Regions from separate parts of the Homo sapiens genome. Here region 2 is linked to region 1. Evidence: fine-mapped expression QTL. Tissue or cell type: monocytes after R848. Region 1 holds a variant in brackets; the other region holds the start of a gene. All regions are shown on one strand. Distances are between the middles of the regions.

Region 1 (8,260 bases):
CACGGGGCCTTTGTGGGGGAAGTCAGTGGAGTAGAGGACCTGCCATGGTGCTGCTGATAGCAGCTCTCCGACAGCTGAAGGGTGCAGGGCTGAGAGGTGGGAGCAGAGGTCCTTTCCAGCACATGGCCTGAGAGAGTTCTGGATCAAAATCCTGCCACATATCCAGGAAGAACCTGCCCGGAGGGGTGGACAAGAGCAACCCGGTGCCACCCCCCAAAGTCTCTCTTCCCATCCACTGCCCTGTGCCCACTTATCCTAGTCATCCAGGAGAAGCCCACAGTCAAGCTGCTGCTCAATGCTTCTGTTAAGGGCCTAACATGAATCATCTCACTTTTTTTTTTTTTTAAGACAGAGTCTTGCTGTTGCCCAGTCTGGAGTGCAATGGTTTGATCTCGGCTCACTGCAACCTCCGCCTCTCAGGTTCAAGTGATTCTCCCGCCTCAGCCTCCTGAGTAGCTGGGATTACAGGCATGTGCCACCACACCTGGTTGATTTTTGTATTTTTAGTAGGTACGGGGTTTCACCATGTTGGTCAGGCTGGTCTCGAACTCCTGACCTCAGGTGATCCGCCTACCTCGGCCTCCCAAAGTGCTGGGATTACAGGCGTGAGCCACCGCGCCCGGCCAAATCATCTCACTTTATACACTTGCCTGAAGGAGCCACGTTATCCCTATTTTGCAGATGAGCAAAGGTCTACGGAGCTCCTGAAATCCAGGCAGTCTGACGTCCAAATCGGAGTCTAGGTCCCTAAACTGCCTCTTCCCCACAAACAGCCTGGAGCCCCTTAGGGTTGGAAGATATGAGTGAATGGATGGATGAAAACAATGAATGAATGGGGGGGCCTGTGGATGCTGGGGAAAGGGGCATCAAAGCTGGACTGGGTCCAAGCCTTGCTCAGGTGTGGCCTCAGCCGGGGAATCCAGATCACAATTTCAGGGACCAGGCTGAAAGGAGGGAAAGGCTCGGGAAGGGACTGAGGAACCCAAGACAGGTCCCTGGTTGGCCCCAGGACCGGCGCTGAGGCCCGGGCCCCGCCTCCGTCCGCGCCTGGAGCCACAGGCCGTCCTTGGTAGGCGCTTAACTCAGGTTGGGTGACATTTTCGCTCGCCAGTTCCTGGCATCAGTGAGTGCTCCGTCAATGTTTGACAAACGGTTGACTCCACTGCCCCGCGCTGTGGGCGCACTAGACTTCGGGGGCGGCGTCCAGGTCCCGCCTAATCTTCTAGGCTCAGGACCCGCGGCGCAAGGGAACGCCCGGGGCGGGGTCGCCTGGGGGCGGGGCCTGGGGTGGGGCCTGCGGACCGAGGGGGCGGAGCCGGCCGCCCCGGGGTCCTCAGTCCGCTCCGGGAGAGTTAGGGCTCCGAGCCGAGCGCGCGGAGCAGCTGGGGCCGGGGCGCGGATGCTGGAAGTTCACATCCCGTCGGTGGGGCCCGAGGCCGAGGGGCCCAGGCAGAGCCCGGAGAAAAGCCACATGGTGAGCGCGGCCCCTGGATGGGGAGGGGCGCCGGGACCCGCAGGATTTCCCCGCGCTGCGCTCAGTGGGGACCCGGGGCCCGGGCCTGGGTGAACGAGCGCTGCGGGCTGGACCGTCGGGGGAAACCTTGTCGAGGGTTTGGGGGCCGCTTGGATTTGCCAGCCTCGCGGACCATGGTTCGAGCTCTTGAGGGACCCCAGGGCTCCGAGGGGCAGGTCCGCCAGCCGGTTCTCCCAGGTGTGCGGGAGCGGAGAGTCCCCGGGCAGCCGCGGCGCCGCAAGGCCGCTTTGTGCCTTTGAGAGCGGGAGGGTGGGCACGTCGCCAGGCGCAGGTGCTGCGGCGTCCTCCCGCGGGGCCTCACGCGCAGACCCGCTGCCCGCCCGCGCCGCCAGGTGTTCCGAGTGGAGGTGCTGTGCAGCGGGCGCAGACACACGGTGCCAAGGCGCTACAGCGAGTTCCACGCGCTGCACAAGCGGGTGAGGCGGCGCCGACCTCCCACCGGCCCCGGCCCAGCCTCTGTCCAGCCCCCGCCCAGGCCCTGTGAGGCGGGCGGGCGAGCCCCAGCCTCCGCCACCCCCATTACTGCCTCAGTCCCTGCGCAGCCGGTCAGCCCCCGGGCCTCTGTGGGTGGGTTGGGGCCTTCCTCGCCCTCGGCCGGTCCACCACTCACCAGGGTCTGTCCCAGTAGAGCCCGAAGGCGGGGGCGCGGGAGGGCTTCTGGCTGGGGCGAAGAGGGCTTGAGGGCTCAGTCGGGATGCTGTGATCGCACGCGGTAAACCTCCAGTAGATCAAGAAGCTGTACAAAGTGCCCGACTTCCCCTCGAAACGCCTGCCCAACTGGAGGACCAGAGGGTTGGAACAGCGCCGGCAGGGCTTGGAGGCTTACATCCAGGTATGCGAGAGCACAGTTGGTTGCCCCCCGGCCTTCTGTGCCAGGGGTGTGGCCCAGACAGAGAGGTGTGGGGGCATGGCAGGGAGGGAACCCACAACTTGGGGATGTTATTCACCACCTCAAGCATCAATTTTCTGAGTCTAATATAGGTCCAAACACCCCCCTCTGGCTTGTTGAAAGGACTGAAAGAGGTAACGGACACAGGTAGTCCCAGCTCCATGAAACCCAGGTCCTGTCCCCTCCATGGTGAGGTCCTGTGCTGCCCTCCTGATGGCATGTAGGGTGAGGGTCCTTCCCCCAACAGCAAAGCTATGCCGCGTCATGGGGTACAACCTGTGCACACAGCGCCCAGCGCCCAGAAGGGCCCTGAGCCTGGTTCAACGCTCTGCTGTCATTGTCGTGAAATTCTTTTTTTGGAACAAAGAGCCCTGCATTTTCACTGGCACTGCGCTATGCAAATTAGTAGCTGGGTCTGATTGCAGGTCTCCTCTGTCCTCTCCAGGGCATCCTGTACCTGAACCAGGAGGTGCCCAAGGAGTTACTGGAATTCCTGAGACTTCGGCACTTCCCCACAGACCCCAAGGCTAGCAACTGGGGGTAAGGGGGGCCGATGGCGGGGGCCAGGGGCTGTCAGCAGTGAGCAGGTGAGGAAAGGTGTTGGAGGGCAAGCCCTTTCTTTTCACATCTGCCAGGATCCAGCATGACCGCCCTCACCAGCTCTCTTGACCTGGGTGGAGGGGCTTTTTTTTGGACAGACTTGGTTACCCCCGCCACCTCCGGAACTGGGGCTTGTTACAAATAGAAGCAGTGGTCCCCTGGGAGGTGCAGTTCTGGGCTCTGGTGTCTCCACCCCTTCCTCACGCTCCCCCGGCATCCCCAGGCAGCTTACAGTGTTTCTCTTCTCTTCAGCACCCTGAGGGAGTTCCTGCCTGGCGACAGCAGGCAAGTCAAAGCCCTAGCCCGCGCTTGGCCCCTGCTGCCCCCTAGTGGCCATATGCTAGGAGGCAGGCCTGCTGCCTGGGCCTGTCTGGCCTGGGCCCTGAAGTCTGTTTTCCCTTTGGTGCCTCCTGAGCCCATTTCCCACTCACCTTTTCCTTCATGGGTCCCTGGTGATGGCAACCCCGTCTCCACCCCTCTGTGGGATTCTGCCCTGCCTCCCGCACCCATGGTTCATGACCCTGTTTCCTCCCAGCTCCCAGCAGCACCAGCGGCCTGTCCTGAGCTTCCATGTGGATCCCTATGTTTGCAACCCCTCCCCAGGTGAGGAGGTGCCTAGATATGGGGCTACAGGGCTGGGTTGTGGGCTTTGCATTTCTCGGCTCCTGGGACCCTCAGACAGCATCTCCTTCCTGCTGCCCACCTCTGGAGCCACTACCTCCTGCTCCTGTCCCCTGGAGCCTGCTTTGTAGACACAAGGAAAACAAGTTTGGCTTCCCTGGTCTCCATTTCTTCAGCAGCCTGACTTCTTTACCAAGCTGATGTGAAAAGAATGTGACCTGGGAATGCGGAGGCTTCATTTGGGGTGGACAGCTGCTGTCTGCTGCCTTGGCAGGGGCTCCTACTCCCAAGTGGGGGCTGAGCCCATGAGCAGGAGCTCAAGGAGCTGCAGGTCTGAGGCCAGACCTGTTTAATTCTATCCCACAGAGTCGCTGCCCAACGTGGTGGTGAATGGTGTGCTCCAGGGCCTCTACAGCTTCAGCATCAGCCCAGATAAAGCCCAGCCAAAGGCGGCCTGTCACCCTGCTCCTCTGCCACCGATGCCCTGATCAGTCCAGAGGCCTTTGGCTGCCTCCTAAGAAAGTCATGTGCCTCTGTCCTATGAACTCCATATAAGGCTGGGTCCTCCTTTGGCCTGGACCCAGGACTTAATTACCCAGTGCCCAGTTGTGCCACATTCCCACTCAAGGCTCAGAACTTGGCTCGCATTGGTAGCTGGAGGTGGTAGAATTTGTATGCTCTTAGAGCCCAACAGCCAAGGCAGGGTCAAGAAGATAAGTAATAAAAGAGGAAGTCAGCCAGGCGC[G/A]GTGGCTCATGCCTGTAATCCCAGCACTTTGGGAGGCCAAGATGGGTGGATCACCTGAAGTCAGGAGTTCGAGACCAGCCTGACCACCATGGAGAAACCCCGTCTCTACTAAAAATACAAAATTAGCCGGGCATTGTGGTGGTGCATGCCTGTAATCCCAGCTACTCGGGAAGCTGAGGTAGGAGAATCTCTTTTTTTTTTTTTTTTTTTTTTTTGAGACGGAGTTTCACTCTTGTTGCCCAGGCTGGAATGCAATGGCACGATCTCGGCTCACGGCAACCCCCGCTTCCCGGGTTCAAGCAATTCTCCTGCCTCAGCCTCTCGAGTAGCTGGGATTACAGGCATCCGCCACCATGCCCGGCTAATTTTTGTATTTTTAATAGAGATGGGTTTCACCACGTTGGCCAGGCTGGTCTTGTACTCCTGACGTCAGGTGATCCACCCGCCTCGGCTTCCCAAAGTGCTGGGATTACGGGCGTGAGCCACCGTGCTCGGCCCAAGGCAGGAGAATCTCTTGAAGCCAGGAGGCGGAAGTTGTGGTGAGCCGAGATCGCGCCACTGCACTCCAGCCTGGGCAACAAGAGTGAAACTCCGTCTCAAAATAAATAAATAATAAAGGAAGAAGTCAGCTGGGTGCAGAGGCTCATGCCTGTAATCCCAATACTTTAGGAGGCCAAGGCAGGAGGATGCTTGGGTCTGGAAGTTTGAGACCAGCCAGCGCAACATAGTGAGACCTGTCTCTACCAAAAAAAAAAAAAAAAAAAAAAAATCAATTTAGAGGTAGGCTATGAAAAAGTACAGATACATCCCTTAACATAGACTGGAGGGTGGTGGCAAGGGGAGCAAATGTGGAGGCCCAGTAGCTGGCAAAGTTTAGAAGCAGGGGGCAAAAGCTCCTGCCTGACTTTTCCTGGGTAGCTCCTGGGTCAAAATTTCAGGCAGGATCCCAGGGAAGGGGCAGGCACCCATTGCCACAGGAGAGTTGCAGGCATGTTGGGATGTAGGCCTAGGGGAGGTGCTGCAGGCTCAAGAACCAGGCCCACACATTATATATTAAAAAAAAAAAAACCCACATTTTTTTTTATTGGTCAGTGTTGGTAGGAGTTTGTTACAAAAGTGAGTCCATGGGCCTGTGGAATGTGAGGGGAGTGGGTCCGCTCCACCAGATGCCAGCACCGGGGCCAGTGCAGCTCAGAGCCCTGTGGCGGACTACAGGGCCTGCACAGACGGTCACTCAAAGAAAGATGTCCCTGTGCCCTACTCCTTGGCGATGGCAAAGGGCTTCTCCACCTCGATCTTGCCGCAGTCTGCGATGATCACATCCTTCAGGGGTTTATCCCGGCTGTCTGTCTTGGTGCTCTCCACCTTCCGCACCACCTCCTGGAAAAGAAAGGTGGAAGCAGGAGGGCATGGTGGATCAGGAGGTCCACCGCTCAGGAGAAAGGCCCCAGCGTATGGCTCAGGAGGGCTAAGACCCACAAGTGATCAACAGCACACAAAACTGGAGGCACCAAAATTCTAACAGACTCCTGGCCAGAGCAGGGAGAATGCAGATTTGACGAGGGGGTACAGGAATTTTGTTCCTTTGAAGTAAGACCCAGGTTGGGCCAAGGGTGAGGAGGAGGAAGAGGGTGACCAGGGCATGTGGCTTCTCAGGGACATTGCGTTCAGCTGCACTCTGTATACCTCAGGGGTGGGACCAGCACGTCACTGAGTGAAGGAGGGGAGGGAGGCTCTGGCAGTTGTGCAGCCTTCCTGGCTGGGCTCTGAGGGGGCTGGAAGAATTTAGAACCTTGGAGGCATGGAGGTACAGGGTTTATTCTGGACAGGAGCACTGGGCTGCATCTGTGGGTTGGGTCCTTTTGGGAAAGGGATGGACACATGGAGCTCCTGCCCTGGGGTCTGTGTTGAATCCCCGGTGAGGATTGCCCAGTAGTAGCCCTTGCTTCCACAACTCACCATGCCCTCTAGAACTTTGCCAAACACCACATGCTTGCCATCTAGCCAGGCTGTCTTGACTGTCGTGATGAAGAACTGGGAGCCGTTGGTGTCTTTGCCTGCGTTGGCCATGCTCACCCAGCCAGGCCCGTAGTGCTTCAGTTTGAAGTTCTCATCGGGGAAGCGCTCACCGTAGATGCTCTTTCCTGGGAAAAAAGACAGAGCAGGTCAGGGGCGCTGGATTGCGCCAAACCAAGCAGACATTCGGGGCCAGGACTGAGGGGGCTTAACCTGTCCTCTGTGCCAGGCTAGGCTGGAGTGGACTACAAGGACATAAAAGCAGCGTCCTTCCTATCTTCTGGCCTCAGAGCCAAGCCATGCTGACTGAGGCCAAGTGGGGCATCAGGCCAGGCTGATGTGGTGAACAGCTCACAGAAGGATTACTTTGAGAAGATAGTTTTGTGGCTTTTAAATAAGGCGCATGTTATCAGCTCCCCTTAGCTATGGCCCAGGCCTGCCACGGAGGGACTTTGGTGGAGGGAAGTGCCGTGCAGGATGCAGGGGAGTCAACAGGGTCGGAACTCTCCAGAAAAGGAGGACTGCTGTGGCTGACCAGCCTGTTTTCCTATGAGCACAAAAGACACAGGCATAGCTGCAGAGGAGAAAGCAGCCAGAGATGTGTGGGGAGGGGCAGAAAAGAGGGGCTGCCCCTTGGATTCTGGAGAGTCAAAGCCTCTTAACAAGGAATGAACAGGAATAAAAGACAGCTGTGAGTGTGTGTGACGCGTCTGTCCACGTGGGGCTTGGGGATATGGTAAGGGCAATCCGGAGTGATCTCTATGCCATTTCAGAGATCCTAGTTCCAAAGCTGCTTCCACGAGGAACACCGAAACCCTTCTTTTTCCCTATCACCCCTTGGAGACTGACACTGTGCATGAGGCCCCAAGAAACTCAGCCAAAAATGGGGTCATTTTCATTTTGTTTTATCTAACACCTTTCAAACATATTTGCATGCAAAACTCTTTTTTCCTTCTCACTGCACCTACCTTCATCCTGTGGTTCCACAGAATGGAACTGAGCTGGGAAACTGTCCTAGACAGATGCCAACCAGGAAGATGTTTCTGATTGGGCAGCAGGTAGGATGACTGAAAACCAAGAATGACCAGACTCTGGCTGGTGGGGACAGGGTGCTTCTGCCTGTGCTCCACCTCTCACCCCCACGCTGGGGAGACTGGACTCTGCCACATGTGCAGTGAGACCTGGCTGGAGTGCTGGCTAAAAGCCTCCCCCATTTGAGCCAACTGTGGGATTTTGATTATAGTTGTTATCCAGAAAACCCCCAAATCTCCATCCTTAGCTCCAGCCACTCTCTCAAGATACAGGGGTTCCAAACTCAAATGGACATTTCTATTTAAACTCAACATACCTTGTCATCTTTCTCTCCAGACCTCAGTTATTCTTTTGACCCCTTTTCCTCTGCACGTGGCTCAGGTTGTCCCTACCCACTCCCCATGTACTTACTCTTTCTTTCCATTCCCACCACCACCGCTGCAGTAGGCGAGTGCTTAGGGTGCTCATAGTGTGAGCCAGAGACTGTTCCAAGCATCTTACATATTTAACAATCCACTCTATGAGGAGGAGCTAACTCCACTTCAAAGATGAAGAAACTGAGGCACAGAGAATAAAAGGAGCCCCAGCAGAGCAACAGCGGGGCTAGAGTTCAGACCAAGGTGGTCTGCTCTCGAATCTCTGCTCTCAGCCACCTCAGGATCAGGTCCAAATCTCCCTGCCCAGGGTCAGTGGCACCAATGCCCCCAGCAGCCTGCCTGCCCTAGCCTCCACATCCTGGATCTGCCACCACATGACTCCCCTGGCACCCCAAGTGAGGGGTCATCCTCTTACTCAGCTCTGTGGCCCTGACTCCCTGCAGGCC
Region 2 (8,000 bases), 200 kb after region 1:
CAAAAAAAAAGTGAAAAGATAAAAGAAAACACAGCAGAAAGCTTAGATATATACAGACCTTACACTCTCAGAAGAGCCATTTAGAAAGCTAAATAACCTTACCAAAACTCTGTAACTATCACAAAACATAATTTGAATTCTTCTTTTTTTTTTTTTTTTTTTGAGATGGAGTTTTGCTCTTGCCCAGGCTGGAGTGAATGGCACAATCTTGGCTCACCGCAACCTCCACCTCCCGGGTTCAAGCGATTCTCTTGCCTCAGCCTCCCGAGTAGCTGGGATTACAGGCATGCTCCATCATGCCTGACTAATGTTGTATTTTTAGTAGAGATGGGGTTTCTCCATGTTGCTCAGGCTGGTCTCAAACTCCTGACCTCAGGTGATCCGCCCACCTCGGCCTCCCAAGGTGCTAGGATTACAGGCATGAGCCACCATGCCTGGCCTAATTTCAACTCTTTATAAAACAAAGAGACATGGGGAAGAAATATATTTGAAAATTTCTCAGGGCTGGGTGTGTTGGCTCATGCCTGTAATCCCAGCACTTTGGGAGGCCAAAGCTGGCGGATCACTTGAGGTCAGGAGTTCGAGACCTGCCTGGCCAACATGGCAAAACGCCTTCTCTACTAAAAACACAAAAATTAGCTGGACATGGTGGCACACGCCTGTAGTTCCAGCTACTCAGGAAGCTGAGGTGCGAGAACTGCTTGAACTTAGCAGGCGGAGATTGCAATGAGCAGAGATTATGCTGCTGCACTCCAGCCTAGGTGACAGAGCAAGAATCTGTCTTTAAAAAAAAAGAAAAGAAAATTTCTCACAAATTTACACAAAACTTATGAACTTCTCAAAAAAGGTCAAACTGAATTGCAAACTTTGTATTCTCACAAACATCTATTATTACAGGAAGTTATTTGATTTTTGTCCTCTGAGTATAAATTACATTTGAAAATAACTAACTATAAGTCACCTCAAAAAGCAAACTACGTTAGCTGAAAATCTGACATATAATAGGTGACACATAACTATATTATTTTAAATCCACAAAACAAATGAGTATAAAGACTTTGGCCGGGTACGGTGGCTCATGCCTGTAATCCCAGCACTTTGGGAGGCTGAGGCGGGTGGATCACGAGGTCAGGAGATAGACACCATCCTGGCTAACATGATGACACTTCGTCTCTACTAAAAATACAAAAAAATTAGCTGGATGTGGTGGCATGTGCCTGTAATCCCAGCTACTCAGGAGGCTGAGGCAGGAGAATTGCTTGAACCTGGGAGGTGGAGGTTTCAGTGAGCCGAGATCGTGCCACCACACTCCAGCCTGGGTGACAGAGTGAGACTCCATTTCAAAAAAAAAAAAAAAAAAGAAAGAAAAAGACTTCATGGGCTGGGTGAGGTGGCTCACACCTGTAATCTCAACACTTTGGGAGGGCGACGCAGGAGGTTTGCTTGAACCCAGGAGTTTGAGGCTGCAGTGAGTATAATTGCCCCAGTGCATTCATTCTGGCCTAAGTGACAGAGAAAGACCTTGTCACTAAAAATAAATAAAAAACAGACTTCATGTTTCTTGGATTTATTTCTATATCGTAATAAGGAATGATTTAAAGGCAGAAATGTATTCGATTTTGTTTTCTGAATATTATATAAGTTTTTCTAGTAGCATAAATCTAACTGAGATGAGAGGTGCTGCTGATGCTGCTGATTTTTATCTTAAAATTACAAGTAGGCCGGGCACGGTGGCTCACACCTGTAATCCCAGCACTTTGGGAGACCAAGGCGGATGGATTACAAGGTCAGGAGTTCAAGACCAACCTGACCAACATGGTAAAACCCTCTCTCTACTAAAAATACAAAAAATTAGCTGGGTGTAGTGGCAGGCGCCTGTGATCCCAGCTACTCAGGAGGCTGAGGCAGGAGAATCGCTTGAATCCTGGAGGTAGAGGTTGCACTGAGCCGAGATCGTGCCACTGCACTCCAGCCTGGGTGATAGAGCAAGACTCTGTCTCAAACAAACAAACAAACAAACAAAAAACAAGTACCTTCTATTTTACACCCCAATTTTAATTCTCTTTAAAGAGACATGTGATGTTAAGATTTACATACATTACTTTTTCATGTATTTCGTGTTAATCCATACTATAAACACCAATATGGTGTAGCTGAGAAAAATCTATAAAATATATTTTGCTCATTTCAATAAATGGGCCATATTCTACTTTATTATTTTGAATTTTAAGAAACTACTGATAACTGAATTTCATGCTACCTACGATCAATTTCGAGAAGACACTGAAAGTCCTATTGTATGCATTTTTTTTTCAAAATTATCCGGTTGCTTTCCTATCTCAAACCTCGTTTCACAAAACTGGGCTGCCTTGACTGTGTATGATTAATGGTAATAATTTATCTTCTAATTCAAAGGTGGTTCCGTTTAAAATGGGATGTTACTTATAATACAGGTAAGAATTTTAACTCATACTACTTATGAAGAAACAAAAGCTCTGGTAGGTTCCATGACTTGCCCAAGGTCAGTAACTAGCAACTGGCATAGTCTAGGTTCAACCCAAGATTTATCTGCCTGAAAGTCAATACTTCCACTTGACCGCAATTATCTCCTTAAAAGATTAAGACACAGGCTCAACAGCAGAACATTCATTCTCTCTCTGAAAATTCACATATCTGTTCTGAGACATCACTACACAGCACCTAGTATTCAGTCACTGATTGAAACAAAAATGAAGAGGATCTTTCTACTTCATTTAAATTAGGACAGGTTTACTGGCAGGTAAGAAAGAGGCTGCAAAAGCCTTGCCTCAACATGTCTTGCCTAGACCTGTGATACATCTATATGGTTTCCCCAGTCCATTCTTTTTAAATAAACACGTACATCTACTACACAAGACTACACCTGGACTAGCCTATTGTTAAATGCTTTTCAGAATTCCACTTTTCTAAGGTAATTTATACCGGAATTAATATCGAGCTGGGAGACTTGGTTGAATATGTCATTCAGGCACTTTCCAAACATCTTAAGTGTCATTTAGGGGCAACAAACCCAGTTCCACTCTCTTTTACATTGTGATGCCTGCCCACTTGGGGGACATTGCTCCTGTAGGACGTGGGGGCGAGGAAACAGTAAAGGAAGAAGTGGGGGAAGCGTACGGAAGTTGGGTAGAGGAAAGTCTCATTACCCACTCTTGTGCCCTAAGCTCCGCCAAGGGCGGCTCCCCGCGGTACCCAGTCGACTCAGAACCCCCACAACCTTCGAAGTCCAGCTCTGTCCCAGCGGGGTGGGTAGGGAAAGAGGGCAATGGAAGCACGGGATAGCCCCAGTCACCCTGACGAGATCTGTGCCCTCCTTTTGGCTCCCGGGGGATGCTCCCCCTTTCAGAGTAAGCCCTCCAGGTGGCAAACTCCCGGTCCACACCGGCTAGAGTCAGTTTCTCGGAAGGGGCGCCTCCTCCGCCTACCTCTACCCCGCTAACCGAAACTCTCCACCCGCTGTGTCCCTCAGCCCCTCCATTCCGCCCCCGCAACCCTCCACAGACACAAACGCCAGCCTGCGCCCCACCCGGGATCACGGCGTCCCCCACCCACGCCCAGGAAAGGGCCCCCCACCAACCCCCTCAGACACACACACACCCCCTCAGACTTCAGCCTACAGAACCCCGACGAAGCCGGGCAGATACCTGGTCCAGCAGTGCTGCAAGGCGCAAATGAGGCGGGCGCGGTCCCCTCCCCGAGGCGCCAAGTGCTTCTCTACCCACCCGCAGCGGTGGTTTCTCTCTTTCCCAGGAGCGGGAGGGAGGGGAGAAGGCGGACGGGAGGGGGAAGGCGAGGAGCCGAGGGGCGGCTGGAGCCGAACCGGAACCACTAGCGCGGCCCCGCCCTCGTCCCGGAGTCGCAGAGTACCCTGGCGGGCCTAATAGGACAAACTTTGGGCAGGCAGCGTTAAACTGACACCATCACTTCCGGGTTATCCCCACGGCTGCCCCCTCCTTAGCAACCGCGTGGGGTTGCTAAGCGGAAGTGCCTTCAAAGCAACCCACCCCCATTTCTTCTGGGACTACCAGAAGATATATCGGGAGCACTGAGCTCTGCTTTGGCAACACGCTCTTACCTTCTGCTCAAGATCTTAGACCAAGTACACGCTTCGCTGCCAGAGGCACGAAACCCATCCCGCTTTTCCCTTCAACTGTACTCCTCCACCAAGCCCCCGTCTCTATATACTCCTGCTCCCTCCCACCCTTAATCCCGTGGCTGACCCAGTGGCTGTTCCTAAGGCTCCAGGCTCCTCTCTCAGGTCCCTCGAGGGAATTATTTTCTGACGGTTTAGCAAGCATCTCCCTCTTGTGGATTTTTAATTGTGTTTCAACCAGATTTTTAAAATTTCTTTCAATGTTGTGAAAGGTTTTTCATGCACTTAGTTCTCCTGTGACAGCCCATGAAGCCGAATGGTTAGAAAAATGTTGTCTTCACCTACATTTTGTAAGAGCTGCACATGTTTGTGTAAGGTCTGGAATTAACCTAGCCAAATGGAATAGGCAAAAAAGATTCAATGTAACTCGACAGTTATTTTAATCCTTAAAACAGAGAGCAGGGCACATGTTCTCAGGACCTCTTGAGACTGCGCCTCGGGGGCGGGGTGGTGGTGGAAAAAAGACAGAAAACAAAGAAAAAGGCTAAAGGGAGCCCATAATCAAATTTGGGAAGGAAGAAGACTGTCTAATCCTCCACTCAAAACTCAAAATATGCCGGGTGCGGTGGCTCACACCTGTAATCCCAACACTTTGGGAAGCCGAGACTGGCGGATCACGAGGTCAGGAGATGGAGACCATCCTGGCCAACATGGTGAAACTCCGTCTCTACTAAAAATACAAAAATTGGCCGGGCGCGGTGGCTCGCGCCTGTAGTCCTCCTGTAAGCACTTTGGGAGGCCGAGGCGGGCAGATCACGAGGTCAGGAGATGGAGACCATCCTGGCCAACATGGTGAAACCCCGTCTCTACTAAAATACAAAAAATTGGCTGGGGGTGGTGGCACGTGCCTGTAGTCCCAGTTACACGGGAGGCTGAAGCAGGGGAATTGCTTGAACCCGGGAGGCGGAGATTGCAGTGAGCCGAGATCGTGCCATTGCACTCCAATGGCACTCCAGCCTGATGACAGAGCGAGACTCCGTCTCAAAAATAATAATAAATAAATAAACAAACAAACAAAAATTAGCTGGGCGTGGTGGCGTGTGCCTGTAGTCCCAGCTACTCGGGAGACTGAGGCAGGAGAATCGCGGGAACCCGGGAGGCGGAGGTTGCAGTGAGCCGAGACCGCGCCACTGCCCTGCAGCATGGAGACAGAGCTAGACTCCGTCTAAAAAAAAAAAAAAAAACCTTCAAAATAAACTTTCATACCGACACTATGGATAAGAAAAGAGACCTCATTTATTGTGTCTGGGTGATTTGGGGTTTGAAAATATTGGGAAAATGAATGGTTGGGGTAAAAGTTAACAAAGTAATACTCGAAAAAAACAACTCGTATCTGGAGGCTGGGTGCGGTGGCTCACGCCTGTAATCTCAGCACTTTGGGAAGCCGAGGCCTGAGGATCACCTGAGGTAAGGAGTTCGAGACCAGCCTGGCCAAACTGGTGAAACCCTGTCTCTATTAAAAATAGAAAAATTAGCTGGGCGTGGTGGTGGGCACCTGTGATCCCACCTACTCGGGAGGCTGAGGCATGAGAATCATTTGAACCCAGAAGGCAGACGTTGCAGTGAGCCGAGATTGCGCCATTGCACTCCAGCCTGGGCAACAGAGCGAGACTCCGTTTCAGAAAAAAGAAAAAAAAAAAAAAAAGGAAAAGAACCCATATCGTTATGGCAGGTAAAATATTCAGAGAAATGCAGTTGGGCATTCAGAGAAAAATGAGTAAAAATCTTCATTTGGTTTTCCTATCTTAAATAGGTCTTCTTACAAGCAGAATGCTTAACAGTAGCTCCTAAATTTGTTTTCTATTCCATGGCAGTGAATATACTTGCCACGGCAGGCTCTAATTTTATTGGTCATGATAACCTCTTTATAGACACCAAAATTGAACTGTTATCCACCTTAACTGGGGCAGAGAGGAAATGAGCTTTGGTCACTTAAACGAAACACCACGTCTATTGGTTTCCTGTATGCATGAGACAGGGTTAAATTGATTCACCATAGGCAATCACTTCAGCAAAACCTTTAGGAAATCACTTCAAACTCAAATGGGTCAATAGGATGTTTAATACATCTCCACCTCTGCCATTGACATGAATACATGTGGGAGTATATACACATGCACAATTCAAATGGAATTTCAGCTCATCCACTAATTGTTCCTTTAAAAACCTGGGCGGGATGCAGTGGCTCACACATGTAACCCCAGCACTTTGGGAGGCCAAGGAGGGTGGGTCATCTGAGGTCAGAAGTTTGAGACCAGCCTGGCCAACATGGAGAAACCCCATCTCTACCAAAAATCAAAAAAAAAAAAAAAAAATTAGCCGGGCATGGTGGCAGATGCCTGTAATCCCAGCTACTCGGGAGGCTGAGGCAGGAGAATCGCTTGAACCCAGGAGGCTGAGGTTGCAGTGAGCCAAGATCGTGCCATTGCACTCCAGCCTGAGACAGAGCAAGACTCCGTCTCCAAGAAAAAAAAAAAAAACCTGGCTGAAAGTGACAAGTGGTAAACATGTTACCCTGACAAAACAGAGCTTGGTATTTCAATTGCCAAACAGGTTTAAATATCAAAAAACTTTGAAATAGTAAATAAAATGAGCTCAATGAACAACAATATATCTAAAACTATGATAGACTAGGATGTTTCAAAAAATTAAAACATGATTATGGTAAATAATAAATGTGTTCTATAGAAAGAAATGTTTTATTAAGAAAATCAAGTTATGATTAAATGTGATAGCGTAAGCCAATGTAGAAATGCAAATTCCTATGCATCACTCATTTTACCCACTGCCTGAAGAAAAATGATTTATAAGCAGCATTTGTTTACATCCTCTCTTCCTACAGCTTTTTTAAAAACTCCAGGCACTTTTGTATAGGTGTATGAATAACTGGCTTGACTCCTAATTCATCACATGTCCTCTATTCTATTATTTTCAACATACTCATTGCTTTGAGATCTCTAAAGATAGATAGTACAAACCCCACCTAAAATTAGGTATGTGAGTTTAACTACACTTTTGTAATTTTTGTGGGGAATCCATAGTCTCTCTCTTTTTTTTTTTTCTTTTTAGACAGGGTCTCACTCTGTCACCCAGGCTGGAGTGCAGGCACAATCTTGGCTCACTGCAGCCTTCACCTCGTAGGCTCAAGCGATCCTTCTACCTCAGCCTCCCAAATAGCTGGCACTACAGGCATGCAGTGTGCAGCCACACCCAGCTAATTTTTGTATTTTCTGTAGAGATGGGATCTCACTATGTTGCCCAGGCTGGTCTTGAACTCCTGAGCTTAAGCAATCCGCTTGCCTCAGCCTCCCAAAGTGCCGGGATTATAGCTGTGAACCACCACACCTGGCTAATTTTTGTATTTTTTGTAGAGAAGGGGGTCTCATTCTGTTGCCCAGGCTGGTCTTGAACTCTTGGAGGCCTCAGCCTCCCAAAGTGCTGGGATTACAGGTGTGAACTACCACACCCGGCCATGAATCCATATTCTTTTTTTTTTTTTTTGAGACGGAGTCTCGCTCTGTTGCCCAGGCTGGAGTGCAGTGGCGCGATGTAGGCTCACTGCAAGCTCCGCCTCCTGGGTTCACGCCATTCTCCTGCCTCAGCCTCCCGAGTAGCTGGGACTACAGGTGCCCACCACTACGCCCGGCTAATTTTTTGTATTTTTAGTAGAGATGGGGTTTCACCTTGTTAGCCAGGATGGTCTCGATCTCCTGACCTCGTGATCCGCCCGCCTCAGACTCCCAAAGTGCTGGGATTACAAGCGTGAGCCACCGCGCCCAGCCCATGAATCCATATACTTAATATGAAC

Direction of the effects. Positions count from the first base shown, and alleles are read on the strand shown. Sizes are in standard deviations (SD) of each study's normalised expression.
With allele A in place of G in region 1, the expression in monocytes after R848 of the gene that starts at base 3,869 in region 2 is lower (large effect, 1.4 SD a copy in Quach 2016).

The links. PIP is the estimated chance that this variant, and not a neighbour inherited with it, causes the effect.
Region 2: CSNK1G1 starts here. The variant in region 1 is fine-mapped to the expression of CSNK1G1 in monocytes after R848 (Quach 2016, PIP 0.92).

Annotation. Positions count from the first base shown.
Region 1 is chr15:64,150,377-64,158,636 of GRCh38, forward strand. It overlaps SNX22 (sorting nexin 22), which reads left to right and starts at 1,355. Exons shown (of 7, transcript NM_024798.3): 1 at 1,355-1,474; 2 at 1,867-1,950; 3 at 2,262-2,366; 4 at 2,869-2,963; 5 at 3,276-3,308; 6 at 3,559-3,626; 7 at 4,011-7,105. The coding sequence starts at 1,400. The coding sequence ends at 4,132. PPIB (peptidylprolyl isomerase B) reads right to left here. Exons shown (of 5, transcript NM_000942.5): 4 at 6,349-6,533; 5 at 5,441-5,769. The coding sequence ends at 5,647. RefSeq lists enhancers at 14-123, 3,051-3,280, 3,304-4,035, 3,781-3,900, 3,911-4,070 and silencers at 1,041-1,480, 1,681-2,060. The variant G/A (reference allele first, on the strand shown) is at 4,390.
Region 2 is chr15:64,352,305-64,360,304 of GRCh38, forward strand. CSNK1G1 (casein kinase 1 gamma 1) reads right to left here and starts at 3,869. Exons shown (of 12, transcript NM_022048.5): 1 at 3,684-3,869. RefSeq lists silencers at 3,135-3,194, 3,585-3,644, 3,755-3,804.